Regions from separate parts of the Homo sapiens genome. Here region 2 is linked to region 1. Evidence: fine-mapped expression QTL. Tissue or cell type: whole blood. Region 1 holds a variant in brackets; the other region holds the start of a gene. All regions are shown on one strand. Distances are from middle to middle.

The links. PIP is the estimated chance that this variant, and not a neighbour inherited with it, causes the effect.
Region 2: DTX1 starts here. The variant in region 1 is fine-mapped to the expression of DTX1 in whole blood (TOPMed, PIP above 0.99).

The regions. Positions count from the first base shown.
Region 1 is chr12:113,085,013-113,093,114 of GRCh38, reverse strand. The region is part of intron 3 of DTX1 (deltex E3 ubiquitin ligase 1); the gene reads right to left. Among named protein-coding and RNA genes, the nearest start is that of DTX1, 32 kb to the right of the region's middle. RefSeq lists a silencer at 6,202-6,291. The variant G/A (reference allele first, on the strand shown) is at 4,675.
Region 2 is chr12:113,051,740-113,059,841 of GRCh38, reverse strand. DTX1 (deltex E3 ubiquitin ligase 1) reads right to left here and starts at 3,112. Exons shown (of 10, transcript NM_004416.3): 1 at 2,898-3,112; 2 at 1,391-2,393. The coding sequence starts at 1,649. It also overlaps the pseudogene RPS15AP32. RefSeq lists an enhancer at 1,086-1,874.

The DNA of each region.
Region 1 (8,102 bases):
CGACGTCAGGGGACCTGGCTTGCCTTCTGTCTCTGGCTCCTGGGCCACACACCCTGGCCTCTTTGTACCTCTCTGCCAACTGCAGTTACCTCCAGGAAACTCTCTTTCTACTCTGACATCCTATTATGGGGCGGGGGTGGCCAGGACCTCCGCCCAGGTTCCAATGGGATGCACCCTTAGACTTTAGTGCAGACACCTCCTTACCCTACAGCCGGCTCCTCCCTCGAGAGGGCGCTTTGGCTCTGAGGGCTCCTTTCGTTGGCCGCTGTGCCTGAAACCCAACTACTAGTGGTGTAGCTATTTTAACATCTCTCAAAGCTTGTTAGATGTAGCATTATTAATTTCCATAAAACGTTCCAGGAAAGAAGGATTCAGGAATCAAGTAAGTTAGGAACACGTCACTGTCTCCCTCTCTGAAATTCACAACATATCTGAGCATATTAAAGGCTCTGACAAGCCCTGCGTAAGAACATATCATTAACAATGATAAGTCCAGGTTTTCAAAAGCATTTGGTGATGAATTTTTTTTCTCTTCTGGAATATTTACTGATGTCAGTTTCTGTGACAAGGTACTATCCTCTCTTCAAATGAAGAGCCCCTAGGAAAAGGTATCCTGACTCTCCTCTTCCTCTGGCCCTCAAAAGAGCTTTGGCTTTTGGAGTCAGCCAGAGCTGCTTTCATATCTCAGTTCAACCACTAATGAGCTGGGCGACACACAGCACATCATCTCATCTCTTGTAAGGGGTGGTCTGTAAAATGGGGACAATATGGTACCTTTTTTTTTTTTTAATCTGCTGTGAGGATTCCGTGAAATTATATGTGTCAAGGGCCAAGCACAGTTCCTGGTACCTAACAGCTACTAAAAGCACAGCCATCGGTATCATCACTGTCAGCTGTGCAATCCTGGCCGAGTAATTTCACCTCTTTGCTTCCCAGGCACTAAGTCCTGGTGTAACTTCTCTCCATCTTAGAGAGGAAACCACAAAACTGCTGCAGTGACAACCTTGAACAAGTCACTTAACTTCTTGATCCTCAGTTACCTTATCTGTAAAACAGGCATATTAACACCTCACTTATAGTCGTTGGGAGGACTGAAGGAGAGCTTGCGGTGATGTGTACAGTGTGTCTGCCTGAGTCCTCCTGACTTCAGCACCTGTTTATGCAGGGGAACTGGTGTCTTGCTGTTGATGGGCATGGAACCCAGGCTGGATACGTTCTGATGAAGAGGGGTGTTCTGAAATCCAGGGGTCAGCCTGAAGGCCTTGGGGGATGTGCCAGGAGAGGGGGCAGGAAGGGCTGGGAGCAGTGACAGCTGGAGAAGGAGCTGCAGCAGCCCCCTTGGCTCTGGCCGTGCCTGTTCAGGTCACAGCCTGTCTAATGCTGTCTGGTCACCTGTCCTTGGCAGGCACAGTTGGCACCAGAAAGCATCTTCAAGCAAATGGTGCCCTTGGCAGGCTTGGGTACTGCTGCAGTGGGTGCAGACACACAGACATACACACCCAGGGCACACACCATCCACACAGATCCACAGATCCAAATATACACACATGCATGGAGAAGACCACACAGACTTATCATACTCCCCGGGACACATTACACACACATGTTTAAGTACACAGACACACAAACACACACAACCCAGGGAGTACATCACAGATACATGCACACACAGACACACAGATACCAGGGAGCCTCCCTCCCCATCCGTCTACTTGGGGAACATACCGCACACACTAGGGAATGCACACCATGAACATATACATGGATACACACAGGCACACTTCAGGGCACGCCCCCCACAAACATACATGGATTAAGATACACACACACTCACATATTCCAGGGAATGCCTCCCCACACCTACATACAGAGACTTGTGCACACACGGGGACACACACATACACACAGAAGCACACACAGCTCTCCCCTGGGAGGATACTCCATTGGACAAGAGTCGGTGGCTCATGTAGACCAGTACCGCACCTGCTACTGCCGCCCCTCTCCCCAGCTGCACAGAGCTGGGTAAGGTGGGCAGCAAACCCAGAGGAGCATGCGCTCAGCCCTACAAGCCCCCGGCGCGCTGCAGCCTGCAGAACGGCCTGCCGTCCACACGCGGACACACGATTCCGCACCGCCTGTGGGGAAGTACTCGTGCGTACTGATTCACATCATGCATGGGGGCGCAGGAGGACACGCTGACTCACTGCACACGAGGACACATGCGCACATGCTCTGACCCACACCTCCTGACACTGACACACAGACACTCAGCCTGGGAGGCCCACACCTGCACACATGCAGAGGCACAATCACACATGCACACAGGTGCAGCGCACACACACCCACTTGGTGGCTGCTCGGCTATACAGGATAGTATCACGTGGCCAGGACTCCCATCCCAGACCCCTCTGAGGGCTGTGGAGAGGTCTGGAGCAGACATCTGGATTGAGCCCCTTGAGGAGGCGCCGGTGTGATGGAAGTCAATGAACACAGCTCCCGAGGGAGGCAGGATGGGATGGCGGGTACCCTGGGTCCCCCAGGACCTGGTCAGTGGAGGTGGGAAGAAAGCACTGTGCCTCAGTTTCCCCACCTGTAATGGGGATAGAGTCCTGTGAAAGTTAAATGTGCTAAAACATGTAAAGCTCATCATTTGGCGCAGGGATGAGAGTGGAGGTGTCTTGATTTTCTTGTCGGGCACCCTGCGGGGGGGCCCCAGGAAGAGGGGCACTGAGTATTCATTTGACCCTTCTCAGGGTCTGTCATAATCCTCCAGGGCCTTCCTCAGGGGGGCAGCTGTCACCACTCTAACTTCCTCCCTCTCTATACTTTTATAGGAATGCATAGAGGCATTTCCCTCAAGCTTTTCCTCTTTCCTGCCCATTCTTCAAGCACCTCTAGTGCAGACAACCTGGTTAAGTCTAGGTCTGCCTCACCCCTCTTTCTTCCTTTCTGCCTCACAAGAAGAAAGTATCTCTTTTTTTCTCCAGGACTACCTATAAATTGGGTGGAAAGAAAAATATTGAGCATGCATACCACCACTGGTTGGTCTCCTGCCTGTGGCAGACATCACTAATCCATCACAGCACTCTCTCAAGCTTAGCAGAGTCCTCAGTACAGCTCTCCAAGCAGCCTCTATCAATCAGTATAGCCAGTTTGCTACCCCAGGTCTATATAATGCCCAGTCTGGCCCAGTGGGTAACCCTGCTCTTGCTGAGTGTTTGGTCTAGGAGTTAGACAGAGGGTACTCCAGGAAGGGAAGGATTTAGATCTCAGCTGCCCTAAAATTTCTGGAGCCCCTTAAATACCACATAGCCCTAGATTACAAAAGTCAGTCTTGCTCCTGGGAAGAGCACTGTGAGTGGGGTGTCACTGTGGGACTGTTATTTATTTACCCATCAGTGAGCCTGGGGGACAGTCCCGAGGTAGTCTCCAGCTTCTCTCTAACTGCAGGCCTCCTGCGAGAACCCAGGGTAGCAGAGTTCCCACGAACCCTGAGCGTGGGAGCCACCCGGCCCCCTTTTGATGTGGGACACGCTGTTTCCTCCGAGTCAGTGAGAACATCCTCCTGCCTGGACAAGCGACCGCTGCCTGCGGGCCTCCCGGAAGGGGAGCCAGCCTTCACCCCTAGCTCTGCCTTCTTGGGGGCCCAGGCTGGCACAGGACCTGAGGAGTCCCTCAGGCCCTCCCCGAAATCTACTCTGACCAGAAGGCAGGCATGGGCCCCACTGCCATGCAAGCCTCTCTGCCTTTCCCAGTCCCAAATCAGATCCCATCTGTCCTCTGCTCTCACTCCTCCTGCAGCTCCCACTTTGCTCACAGTTAACACCTGGCCTCCTGATCTGGCCCCCATCTACCCTCTGAACCTCATTTCCTATGTGTTCACCCCTCTCCCACTCCACTCCAGCCACCCTGGTCTCTCTGCTCTTTCTCAAGCATGCCAGGCACACTCCCACCCCAGGGCCTTTGCACTTGCTGACCCTTTCCCAAGGTGCTCTTCCCAGATATCCTCATGGCACACTCCCTCACTTAGCACAGGTCTCTGCTCAAATGTCAGCTTATCTGAGACACCTTCCCGACCACTTTATTTAGTTATTTATTTATAGACAAGATCTTGCTCTGTTGTCCTGGCTAGAGTGCAGTGGCTTAACCATTGCTTACTGCAGTCTTGAACTCCTGGGCTCAAGCGATCTTCCCACCTCAGCCTCTTGAGTAGCTGGGACTACTGGCACACACCACCACACCCAGCTTAAACAACAACAACAACAACAACAACAAAACTTTTGAGGAGACAGGGCCTCGCTGTGTTGCCCAGGCTGGTCTGGACCTGACCTCCTGGGCTCAAGTAGTCCTCCCTCCTCGACCTCCCAAAGTGCTGGGTTTACAGGCATAAGCCACTGTGCCTGGCCGCAACCACTTTATTTTTAAAAAGCCCATCTTTGTCCTTACCTTACTGAATTCTTTTTTCATAGCACTAATCACGACCTGACATTATAGTCTTTTTTTAAAATTATACTTTAAGTTCTAGGGTACATGTGCACAACGTGCAGGTTTGTTAAATATGTATACATGTGCCATGCTGGTGTGCTGCGCCCATTAACTCATCATTTACATTAGATATATCTCCTAATGTTATCCCTCTTTAAGCATGACCAGGCCCTGTATGATCTGGTCCAC[G/A]CCGCCTCTTCTGCCAGACAAAGTTAGAGCAGGAATGTCAAATATATGAGTGCATACCACTACTGTCCTCCTAGCACCCACAGCAGGCATTACTAATCAATTTCGGCATGCCTTACCGCTAAGCCAAGATGCAACTTCAGAATCCTCCTCAACACAGTGCTCCAGGAAGTCACTGCCCTGGAGCAGAGATGGCACATGAGATGAACTCTATTTGTCATTTATTTTGCAGATGATGGGACTGAAGCCCAGAGAAGGGAAATGACTTCACTAAGGTCACCCAGCTGGTTGGTGGTGCAGCTGGCACTGGGTCCTGGAGTTTCCGAGTCAGGGGCCAGGGCTGACCCTGCCAGGTTGGTCTGTGGAGCCATCTGGAGTTGAGCCAGCCTAGAGAGCCCTCTGTGCTCTACAGGTGGGCTGAAGTCTTTGACCTGGATCCTGGAGCTGGCTCAGGCCTGGGCAGGGTAGATCAGGGCTGTCTAACTGGATCCATTGGCCTGCTTTGGCCACCTCTCTCTGTCCCCTAGAGGGGTCCAGGATCCCGAAACACTGACAACTGACCCTCCCTTTAGGGCAGCCAAGTCCCCTCCCTCCTCCAAAGTCTGGTCTCCTTATCTCTCCCCTCCCACCCCCAGCAGGCCTAGACTTGTTACTTTCTCTGATGCTAGTTTCCAGGTCCCCCATTGGCCTTGGCCCCCTTCAGGATACCTCACACTTACCCAGCAGACCCCAAAGAGCCCCAGGAGCCTCAGGACTCAGTCATTTGGGGCCAAGTGGGTGAGGAGGGGGCAGAAGTGAGGATGTCACTTTATGGGGAGAAGGAAGTTGAACAGTGCTTTAGGGACCCCCCACCCTCTCCCTTTCTCCTTTCTAGGGGTGTGAGCCTGTCACCTTTCCCCACTTTCAGGGCTGTCTCTGCCTCATAGCTGCCTTCTCCCCCTCCTCCCCCCACAGTCCTGGGGAACACAGCCTGGGGCCAAGTCCCTGCCGCCACCCCCACTGCAGAGACTTGAAGGACATCGCTGCAAGCCCGGGGGACCAGGTGCCCATGGACTCCTCCTCAGCTGCTGTCTGGGGTCCTCACTTCCCCTTTCCTTACCCCAGCACCTCCGTCTGCCTAGACAAACCTCTGAGCTTCTCTGGGCTTCAGTGTCCCCTCTGTGAAATGGGACCCCTTACTTCTGTCTTCTAGACCCCTTACTTCCATGTTCTAGAGATTAAAGGATGTAAAAGTCCCCTCGGGAGACATTTTGAGGTGTGAGTGGTATTGGAGGCTCAGATTTATCTAGAGGTATGGGGGCTGCGGGGGTCACTCTTCAACCCTCCCGGTCCTCCAGCCTGCCCAGCTCTCTGCGGGGGAAGGAACGGGAGGAGATGGTTGGGGGCAGGGAGGACCGGTCAGGTAGGGGAGGGGAGGGCAGGACCGGCTGTTCCCACGGCCCGGGGCAGCCACGTGCAGACAGGAGTGTGTGTGGTTTGGTCTCCCAGGGAGCAGGGCAGGAAGTGCTTCAGGTGGGGGGCAGGGTGGGGGGAGTGTTTGGTTTGACCTTGCAGCAGCGGTGAGGCGGGGTGACAGTCACTGCACACCAGTGGCTAGCGGGGCAGAAAAGTGGGGGAGGGTGGGCAGCCAGGGGCCTGGTGGGGTCCTTGACTTCACAGTGTACCTGTCAGTACTTTAACATTTTCAAACCCCTGAAATGTAATACTTATGGAAGATCTGGAGAAAGAAAATGTGGATTTTTTAAAAATAAAAGCATAAAATCACTGCAAGAAATTTAAAGAAAAAAGGAAAAAAAAGGAAGGAAAACCCTAAAACACACCCACCACAACAAAGTCCCTTTGCCCTTGGCCTCCTGCTTCAGCCCCACTGCGGTCTATGCTCAGCATTCAGAGTGAACCTGTTAAAACAGTCCCACCCGTCTCTCCCAACACACAGCCCTGCTGGTTCCCTTCTCATGCAGAGCAAAAGCCAAAGTCCTAACCGCAACCTTCCAGACCCTGTGTGACCTGGCGCCTTTTCCTCTCTTACTTCTTTCCCACCGATTGCCCTGAGCCTCTCCAACCACACTGGCCTTCTCAGGCACCCCAGACCCACTCTGCCTCAGGGCCTTTGCACATGCTGTTCTGCTGTCTGGCATGTTGGAATGCTCTTCCCCCAGTTCTTTTGCTTTTTTTTTTTTTTCTTGATACAGGGTTTTGCTCTGCCACCCAGGCTGGAGTGCAGTGGCTCGATCTTGGCTCACTGCAACCTGGGCTCAAGGGATCCTCCCACCTCAGCCTCCTGTGTAGCTGGGACTACAGGCACGCACCACCGCACCCAGCTAATTTAAAAAAATTTTGTAAAGGTGGAGTCTCACTATGTTGTCCAGGCTGGTCTCAAATTCCTGGGCTCAAGTGATCCTCCCACCTTAGCCTCCCAAAGTGCTGGGATTACAGGTGTGAGCCACAGTGCCTGGACCATACCTTGCTTTTTAACCTCCTTCCACCTTTGCTCAAGAAGGTATTACCTTCTCCATGAGGCCTTTTCTTCTCATCACTCCCTACATCCTTTCTCTCCTATATTTTTCCTCTGTAGCAGTTACTACTTTCTACCATATTCTACAATTAATTTATTCTGTTTCGTGTTTGTCTCCCACTAGAATGTGAGCTCCAAGAGAGCAAGGACTGTCTGTTTAGTTCACTGCTGTGTCCCCAGGGCCCCAAACAGTGCCTGCCACACAGAAGTTATTCAATAAATATGAATGAATTAATTAAAAAACAGATGAACATATGCTATAAAGGAAAAAGAAACAGCAAACTACAGAAAAGATGGGAGACAAAGGGTTAATGCCCTTAATGCAGGAAGAACACTTGCAAATTAATAAGGAAGCAATAAACAGCTCCAGGGAAGGATAAGCCAAAGAAATACACAAGTAATTGGCAAAAGAAGGAACCACTCATGGCCAGTAAACAGGAAAAAGTTCTCAGGTTCAACTAAGAACCAAGGGTACGGAAACTTAAATGACGTCTCTTTAGGAATTATCAGCTTGGCAATGTTGTACAAATCTGATAGAGATGGGAGGGACAAGGGTGGATTTAAAATGGGAGCAGGCCTGGCTGGGCACTGTGGCTCACGCCTGTAATCCCAGCACTTTGGGAGGCTAAGGTGGGTGGATTGCTTGAGGTCAGGAGTTGGAGACCAACCTGGCAAACATGGTGAAACCCCACCTCTACAAAAAATATAAAAAATTAGCCGGGTTGGTGGCGTGCGCCTGTAGTCCCAGATACTCAGGAGGCTGAGGTACAAGTATTGCTTGAGCCTGGGAGGCGGAGGTTGCAGTGAGTGGAGATCTCGCCACTGCACTCCAGCCTGGACAACAAAGTGAGACTCCATCTAAAAAAAAAAAAAAAGGGTACGGGCCTGAGAAATCCAAGTGCTTTGACATCTGGCT
Region 2 (8,102 bases), 33 kb after region 1:
TTACTTAGTTTTAATTAATGTAAATTTAAGTAGCCACATGTGGTTGGTGGCTAACATATTGGTTGGCACAGCTCTAGAGGGAAAGCGAGCATCCTACCAGCCTGGGGTTATTACGTGTGGTTCTGTCATCCAGGGATTCATAGGAACTTCCCCAAACCCCATCAGCTGGTCCTTGGGGGGTCAAACATGCCAAGGATTTCTAGGCTGCTTCTGCACGGCAGGACCCCACCAGTCCCCACTGCCCATGGAGCTTGTCACAGATACCACCGGGCAATGACTCAGGGAGATCTCCCCAACGATGACAAATCTCCAGAACAAAAGAGAGTAGGCCTGAGAGTGGGACCTCATCGATTTTATCTCCATCATCAGCCATCACATTACCACCAACGCAACCATCAACATCACCATCATTACAACCACAACAGGATCACCAATACCACTAAGTAACAGCCACACACAGGGCTACCAGCCACACCACATGGCCACGAAGACTGCCACCAACATCATTCTCTCATTTTCTCCATCATCACCACCCCATCACACCACTTCCAGCACCACCACCAACACAACTATCAATGTCACCAACACCACTGAATCCCATGGTTAACGCTATCACTGACATCACCACCAACACTGCCACGTCACCATCATCCATCCCTCCATTGTCACCAAGACCCCACCACCATCAATACTATCACTGAGTCACCACCAACACAACCGCTAACACTGTCTCCTCCATCATTGCCACCTCACCCCACCATCAACACCACCAACGCCCCCCATCCCCAATTAATTACCACCAGCACGACTCCACCCCACAAACCAACACTTGGAGCCAGTATAGGATACCAGTTAAGAACTTTGGTTCTGGAACTCAACCGCCTGGGTTTAAATCCCAGCTCTGAGTTTAAATCACTCAGCTTCTGGGAGACTCGGTTTCTTCATCTATAAAATGGGACTCATAATAATACAACAATACACAGACTTACTGCCTGTGATTCTTGGGAAAAATCAAATGAGGAAGTGCATGTAAAGCCCTTATTCTACAATCCCATGCTACTGCTGTTCTAGGTTCTGTGCTCAGTGAGCACAATTTTATTTAATCCTCACTCAGCTGTGAGAGATATTGATCTACCCATTTTGCAGATGAGGAAACTGAGGCTCAGAGAGATGATGCAACTTGCTCAAGGCCCTACAGCTTGCTCAGAGGCTGCATTGGAATCCAAGTCTTAAACTGGACAAGGTTAGACTGCCCTGTTTTTCTGGAGGTGAGGCAGGGAGATGGGGAAGGGATTTGGCATCAGCAGATTTACTGGGATTTTCAGCATCCTACGCTGCAAGGTAGTGATGGCTCGGCGGGGCGGGTGGCATGGGGTGGGTGTCTGCTCACCTGTGTCCTGGCGAAACTGGTGCATGGACTGCAGGTCGATGATGTAGGGCACAAGCTGGGCGTCCACCTGCCCCAGGACCACGGAACCGCGAGCGTCCTCCTTCAGCACGTTCTCAATGTGGTGGCACACGGTGGCCGTGTAGGGCCGCCAGCGGCTGTGCTCATTCAGCCACTCCCACACCACCACCCGGGCCACGTTCTGCGGTGGGAAGCCCAGACCATTCACAGGCATCAGCCCACCGTGGCCTGGCCGTGACATGGCCGCCACTGCCTCAGGGGCCAGGTCCCCCACTATTGCAGGCCCAGCTCCTCCTGGGCCTGGCAGCAGGCGGCAACTTCCTCTCTCCCCAGGGGGACAGCAAGGACCGTCTGGCCTCCTTTCTAACTCTGGGTTCTCTCTGAGGCCTAGAGACCTCCGTTAAAGGAATGTGGGATGGCCATCCAGGCTGCAAAGACCCCTTCCCTGTAGAGCCTTCTCCGATAAAGGGTGCTGCCCTGGAAAGCAAGTGTCTCTCTTATGCCGGAGGAAACAGCTCTAAAGTCCTTGGCCCCCTCGGCTGGCTCAGGTAGGGAGTGAGGCAGCCGCCCCTGTTCGAGGTCCAGCCTCTTCCGTGTTGTCTCTTGGTCCCTCTTCCCCGCCAGACAGGGCCTGTCACCCAGGAGGCCTGGGCCACAGCCTGCTGCTCCTGCGGCTCTCAGCCAGCCCTTTGCACTCCCAACTGCGTCCCAGACCCTGCGCCCGGCTTCAGTGGGGCTTCTCGCCTCCCTCCGGTCTGGGCCCCCTTCTCCGACGGCTCCTGCCGAAGGGGGCGTCCCTGCCCCCTTGTTCCCTCTCCACGGTGTCCTGGAAGGCCTGGGTGGCCGCAGAACGCACGGGGGAGGGGTGCGGCGTGGACCCTCGGGCGGCGCGCCTGGACTGCGGCTCCGGAGCTGGGCTGGGGGACGAGGGGGACGAGGGGGGCGGGGGCCCGTGGGCACGCCCCACCCCACTCGTGCTCGCGACCTGCCAGGAGACAAGAGGGGAGAGGGCCCTTTAAGAGGAGAGCGCAGCACCCCCTCCCCCCTTCCCAGGAGAGCATTCGGCTGAGAACAATGGGGAACCGAAGGGGGACAGCAAGGGGGGCGTACGGGGTCGCCCCGCCCGCTTTCCCTTGGGGCAGGCCTGGAGGGAAGGCAGGGGCCGGGGGCGCGGTTTTCCGAGACTCTCCGCCTGGGGGGCGCCCTCCTTGGCTCCCGGAGCCTTCCCTTCCCCCGGGGCCCTCGCCCTGCCGGGGGGATGCCGGGTGCGCTGGGGTGCGCCGGGAAGCACGGGGATGCGCGGCGCTGCAGGCGCGGCCCAGGGCCCCTCGGGGGTCGCGTCGCGGAGGGGGCGAAGCCAGGAGCTGGATCGTCTCTGCCTCCCGCCCTGGGGGTAACAGCCCCGCTTCCCCAGCCCAGACGTCCCCGAGCCGCTCGCGGGCCCCCAGCGGGAGCCGGGGGTGGGGTCCCTAAGCACCCGCGTTCTCACCGCCTCTCTTCGTCTCCGGCTCCGGCTCCGGCTCGCGCTCCAGCACCGCCGCCTCCTGGGCTCCCCCCGGAGTGGGAGGGAGCCGCGGTCCCGCCTCCGCGCCCGTTCCCTCCCAGGCCCCTCGGCCGCCGCGCCGAGCTTTCCGCGCGTGGACAGACTGCCCGGCCGACGGACGGACGCAGGAGCCGGCTGGCGGCCGCCGGGATCTCGCGGGTGGGAGGAGGCCTCGGCCGTGCTCCGGGAGGGAGAGGGGAGGGGGCGGAGGAGGAGGAAGGGGAGGAGACAGATCTCGGCCCTGAGCGCCACCGGCGCTGACACGCGAGTCTCGGGGCGCCCCAAATCCTCGGCCAGGCCCTCCCGAGACCCCAAGGGGCCTTCTGACCCCAAGCAGAGCGTGAGGCAGGGAGTGGGATGTTTAGGAGTCACCGGCTTGAATCTTTGTCATCTTTATTTCCAGTCTCCCAGTCCAGGGCCTGGCACTGAATAGGTGCTCAATAAATGCTTGAATGAATGAATAAGATCCAGAGACTGTCTAAAGAAAGATCTTGAAGCATTCAGAGCTAGCCTCCTTTCCTCCTCTAACTATTCCTGGGGGTGGGAGGGTGCTGACAAGGCCTGATTCAGACTCAGTTGGAACCGTGGAATCTGAAGAGTACAGATGAGGAGACTGAAGCCAGAGAGAGTAAGAGCCAGGCCCAGGATCACAAAAGCTTAGAGCGATGCCCAGACACCAACCCCGATCTGAATCTCCTGCCAGTACCCAGTTCCCAGCCCTGAGCCCACTTCCCCCAAAGCACCCACCTGCTCCAGGTGAGAGGGGTGGGACCAGGGGAGGGGACCCTGGCCAGGAGGTGAGATCCTGGAGGAAGAGAAGGGCAGGCCCTCTGCCATGTCATTCACAGCCACCTGCAAACAACTGGTGCTCAATAAATGGTGGGTGAGCATTGGTTGGATGGAAGGGAAGGCTGGAAATGGCAGCGGCTCAAGTGTTAACGGGATGGCCAGTCCCCCTGTCCTCCAGCAAGCTGGATGCGGCTGAGACACACATTGGCTGGGAGGGGGGTGGACCACCTGGGGCCTGGGGGTGTTTAGATTGGGGAAGATGAAGGATGCGTCCGGGAACTCCAGCCTGGGTGGCTGACGGGGGTCAGTGGCCTGTTTGGGCGCCTGCCCAGAGCAGCCCACGCCTGCCTCCCCGGGGCAGATGGGGATACACTAGGCAGGGTCAGGGGCAGGCTGCTCAGGGGTGCTTTCCCAGAATCCAGCTCTGGCTCTCCGGCCAGCTGGAGGGACCTCCCCTCCCCAGGCCCCTGCTCTGACCTGCAGCCCAGTGTTGGATGGGCTTTTTCAGATTGGGTCAATGATTCTGCTTGCTTTCACCTGCTGTAGACTAAAGAGAGAGGCTTTGCATAGGGCAGGGCCAAGTCTGACGATACTCCCACAGGATCACTGAGTTCTGGGATTTTAGCCTAGGGTCCCTGGATGGCCTTCTGGGGTCCATGAAGTCCCCCTCTCCCATTACAGGCAAACTTGTGTGTCTAGGCATTGTGTGTCTTGTATGTCTGGGAAGAAGGGCTCTGGCTGTCAGCAGATTCTTCTCACAGGAGACTGTGACTGAACGGATTCAGAGCAGGTGCTCAACCAGCTTATGTTGTAGAAGGATCTGGGGATCCCACAGTGGAGAAGAGATTGGCTCAAGGTCGCATGGTGATTTAGCAGCAAATTGGAAAGAAGAACTCGTGTCTCTGGACTTCCTGTCGAATGCTATTTAAGGTCTGATTAAATGTCACCTCCTCCAGGAAGCCTTTCCTGAATTCACCCCATCTTCCTCTGTGTTCCTTTGCCCATACCTTGACATGACACCCTGTATCACAATTAGCCTCTTAAATGAAATCTGTCCCTGCTAGAGTGAGATAGCCATCATATTCATCTTGGTGTGGTGTGGCTGGTGCCCCATTACATAAGGGTGTCATTTACTGAGTGCCTATTATGTGCCAGGCACTTAAATAATACTTACTACTCTTCATAACTGCCCCACAAGGAAGGTAATGTTGTCCTCATTTTACACAAGGAAACAAAAAACCTCCTGAAGCTCAGAAAGGCTAAGTAGCTTACCCAAGTTCCCACAAGGAGTAAGTGGCAGAGCTAGGGTCTGAGTCCCAAATGCTTTTGCACCTCCCATAGCACCATGCTGCCTCTGTGTTTGTTGAGTGACTACTGGATGGCACCCAGCTGAGGATCTGGTGCAGAGTGGCCCTTAATGGCCCCTCTCAACTGGGTTTGGAACATCTGGGAATGCAACACTCTGCTCCCAGGGAACTTGGGGAGAAAAGAATTCCAAGGAGAGGGAAGGAATTTGGCCACCAAGGAGCCCACAATTCATGGGAGGGATGGCTCAGATACCAATGGGGAAGTCAATAGGACAAAAGCAAAAGCAATCAATCATGAACTGTTTTTTTTTTTTTGGTCCATTGAGGCATTTTATTCATATGAATTTATTACATCCCTAGAAAAACAATCCCAGGATTTTCCCTCCTGTGTATTTTTGTCTTGCTTCCTTGCAATCCCTGATACCAGCTGAGGTTGTCAGGACAATGAAACCAAAGGGGATAGGGGTACCATTTTTCTAGATCTTTGAGTTGCACATCAAACTGGGGCTTGTCACTGTACACTTGTTTAACCTGCCTGTGAGGTCCACAGTGATTTTTCTAGCTCTGTGATTATTGATGATTGCAAATTCACTGATGTAAACTAAACTTCATCATCACACTTAGAAACTAGATGATGATTTTGGAACACAACCTAAAACAACCTGGTATTTGCTTCTCTTCTCAGCATGTTGATGCTATTGAGAACACTGGCCAGGACGTTCACATGCACCATTATAGCAGCTCAGAAAGATGGCAGAAAGAGACCAACTCATTTTTTTTGTTCTGCCATCCACCATCCACTTATCCATCCACCCGTCTATCCATTCATCTATCCACCCATCCTCCATCCATCCATTCCACCCATCCATCCACCCACCCACCCACCCACCCACCCATCCATCCAGTCATTCACCCATCCACCCACTCATCCATCATCCATTCATCCATACACCCACCCACCCATCATCCATCCATCAATCCATCTATCCATTTATTCATCCATTCATCTATACATTCATGTATGAAATTTCCCACCTTCCTTGCTTCCCTTCCTCCATCTCTCCCTTCCTTCCTTCCTTCCTCTTTTTATTTTTATTTTTTTAAGATGGAATCTTGCTCTGTCACCAGGCTGGAGCACAGTGGCGCAATCTCAGCTCACTGAAACCTCTGACTCCCTGGTTCAAGTGATTCTCCTGCCTCAGCCTCCCAAGTAGCTGCAATTAGAGGCACGTGCCACCACGCCCAGCTAATTTTTATATTTTTAGTAGAGATGGGGTTTCACCATGTTGGCCAGGATGGTCTTGATCTCCTGACCTCATGATCCACCTGCCTTGGCCTCCCGAAGTGCTGGGATTACAGGCATGAGTCACCGCACCCGGCCCCTTCCTTCCTCTTATCCACTTATTCATCCATCCATCCATCCATCCATTCATCCAAAAAATACCAGATGCCCTCCTATGTGCCAGGCACTGGGCTACGTGCTGAGATAGAGAGCTGACACCAGCAGCATGGTCCCTGCCCTCCTGGGTCTCAGAGTCTAGTGAGGAAGTCGGACATGAATCAAGAATCACACAAAGTCTAATTCCAAACTTTTGCAAAGACTATGAGGGAAAAGTACAGGATATCGTGAGGACATCTAACAGGGGTCTTATCAGGTCTAAGGAATCAGGGAGGGCTTTTCAGAGGAGTTGATGTTTCAGCCACTCCCTGAAGGATTCATAGGTCTTAATGTGGCTGAGTGGGGTAGGAGGGGGAATGATTAAATCAGAGGAAACAGGGATGTGCAAAGGCCCAGAGGTGGGAAAGCGCTTGGTGTGTTAAAGCAACAGAAAGGAGACCAAGTAACCACTGAGAAAGAAGAGGGGTGAGCCTGGGGCCAGAAGAGGCAGAGCTACCATGCAGGGCCTTATAAGACCCAGTGTGGGTTTGCAATTTTATTCTAAGAGTCATGGGAATTACTAAAAATTTGATGTGATTTGATTTGTGTTGGAAAGAGCCTGGAATTAACTAGACTTTATTGAGTACCTACTGTATGTCCAGCCCTGGTCTAGGTACAGGAGAGTCTGGAAGGGGACACAAAACAAGATGAGTAACACTGAAGACCGTATTAGGGGCATGTGCATTAGGGTATGAGCCCTGGGAGACACATGCCACCCCTGTCCCCAGCCTGTGGAGCCGAGTGAGTTAGGCTTTTTTGAGCCCTTCTCTCCAGCCCTCTACATTCTTCTGTGCAGACCAGCTGTGACCTCCCCTTCAGCAGTTGAGAAAAAGTTTAAGTGGAAAACAGGAAACAGAGTGAGAAGGACTGTTTGGGTGTCTCTGGGGACTGAAATGGGGCCCCTGGAAGTCAGAGTGTTCCTTGGGCCTGTAGGACACTGGTGGGGTGCGAGTGGTGAAAGGTCTTTTGCTGCCTGCTGAGAATGGGCAGTAGAATTGGAGAAGCCTCAGAAGGGTGACATCCACAGCCGGCTTTGCTTAGCGAGGAGGGTCTGCAGGCCCAAGGTTAAGGTGGGCACTGCTCTCGTGGCCATGTGTGCAGGTCATGGTTCCTGGGAGCAGTGTCTCCCCATCACCAGGCAGAGGCTGGTTCCAGGTGAGCACAGATTCATCCCAGGGTCTTGCTCTGAAATTCACATACAGCCGGAGTTGAAAGCAGCTTGAGCATCTATGGGCGAGATGGTGAGATGAACGCCCTCCCCACCCCAGAGCACTGGGTCCCACCCTGGATTCATGTGAGAATCTCCTGCAGAGTGCATACAAATTACCCATGTCCAAGCCCCACCCTCAGAAACTGATGTAGTTGGCTGGGGGGTCCAGGTATTTGTAGGCTTTGGCCAATGGTTCTTTCCCTGGATTTAAGGGATTAAAACTGAGAGATGGTTGTCAACCTGTCTCTAGGTAGTTGGGCTAATCATATGTGATATTGCGAGCTTTTAGGGCCCATTTAGAGCCATCCATTTATTCATCTAATCAGATGATGTTTACTGAGCACCTGCTATGTGCCAGATACCATTCTAGGCACTGAAGATACAATGATGAATAAAAGACATAAAAC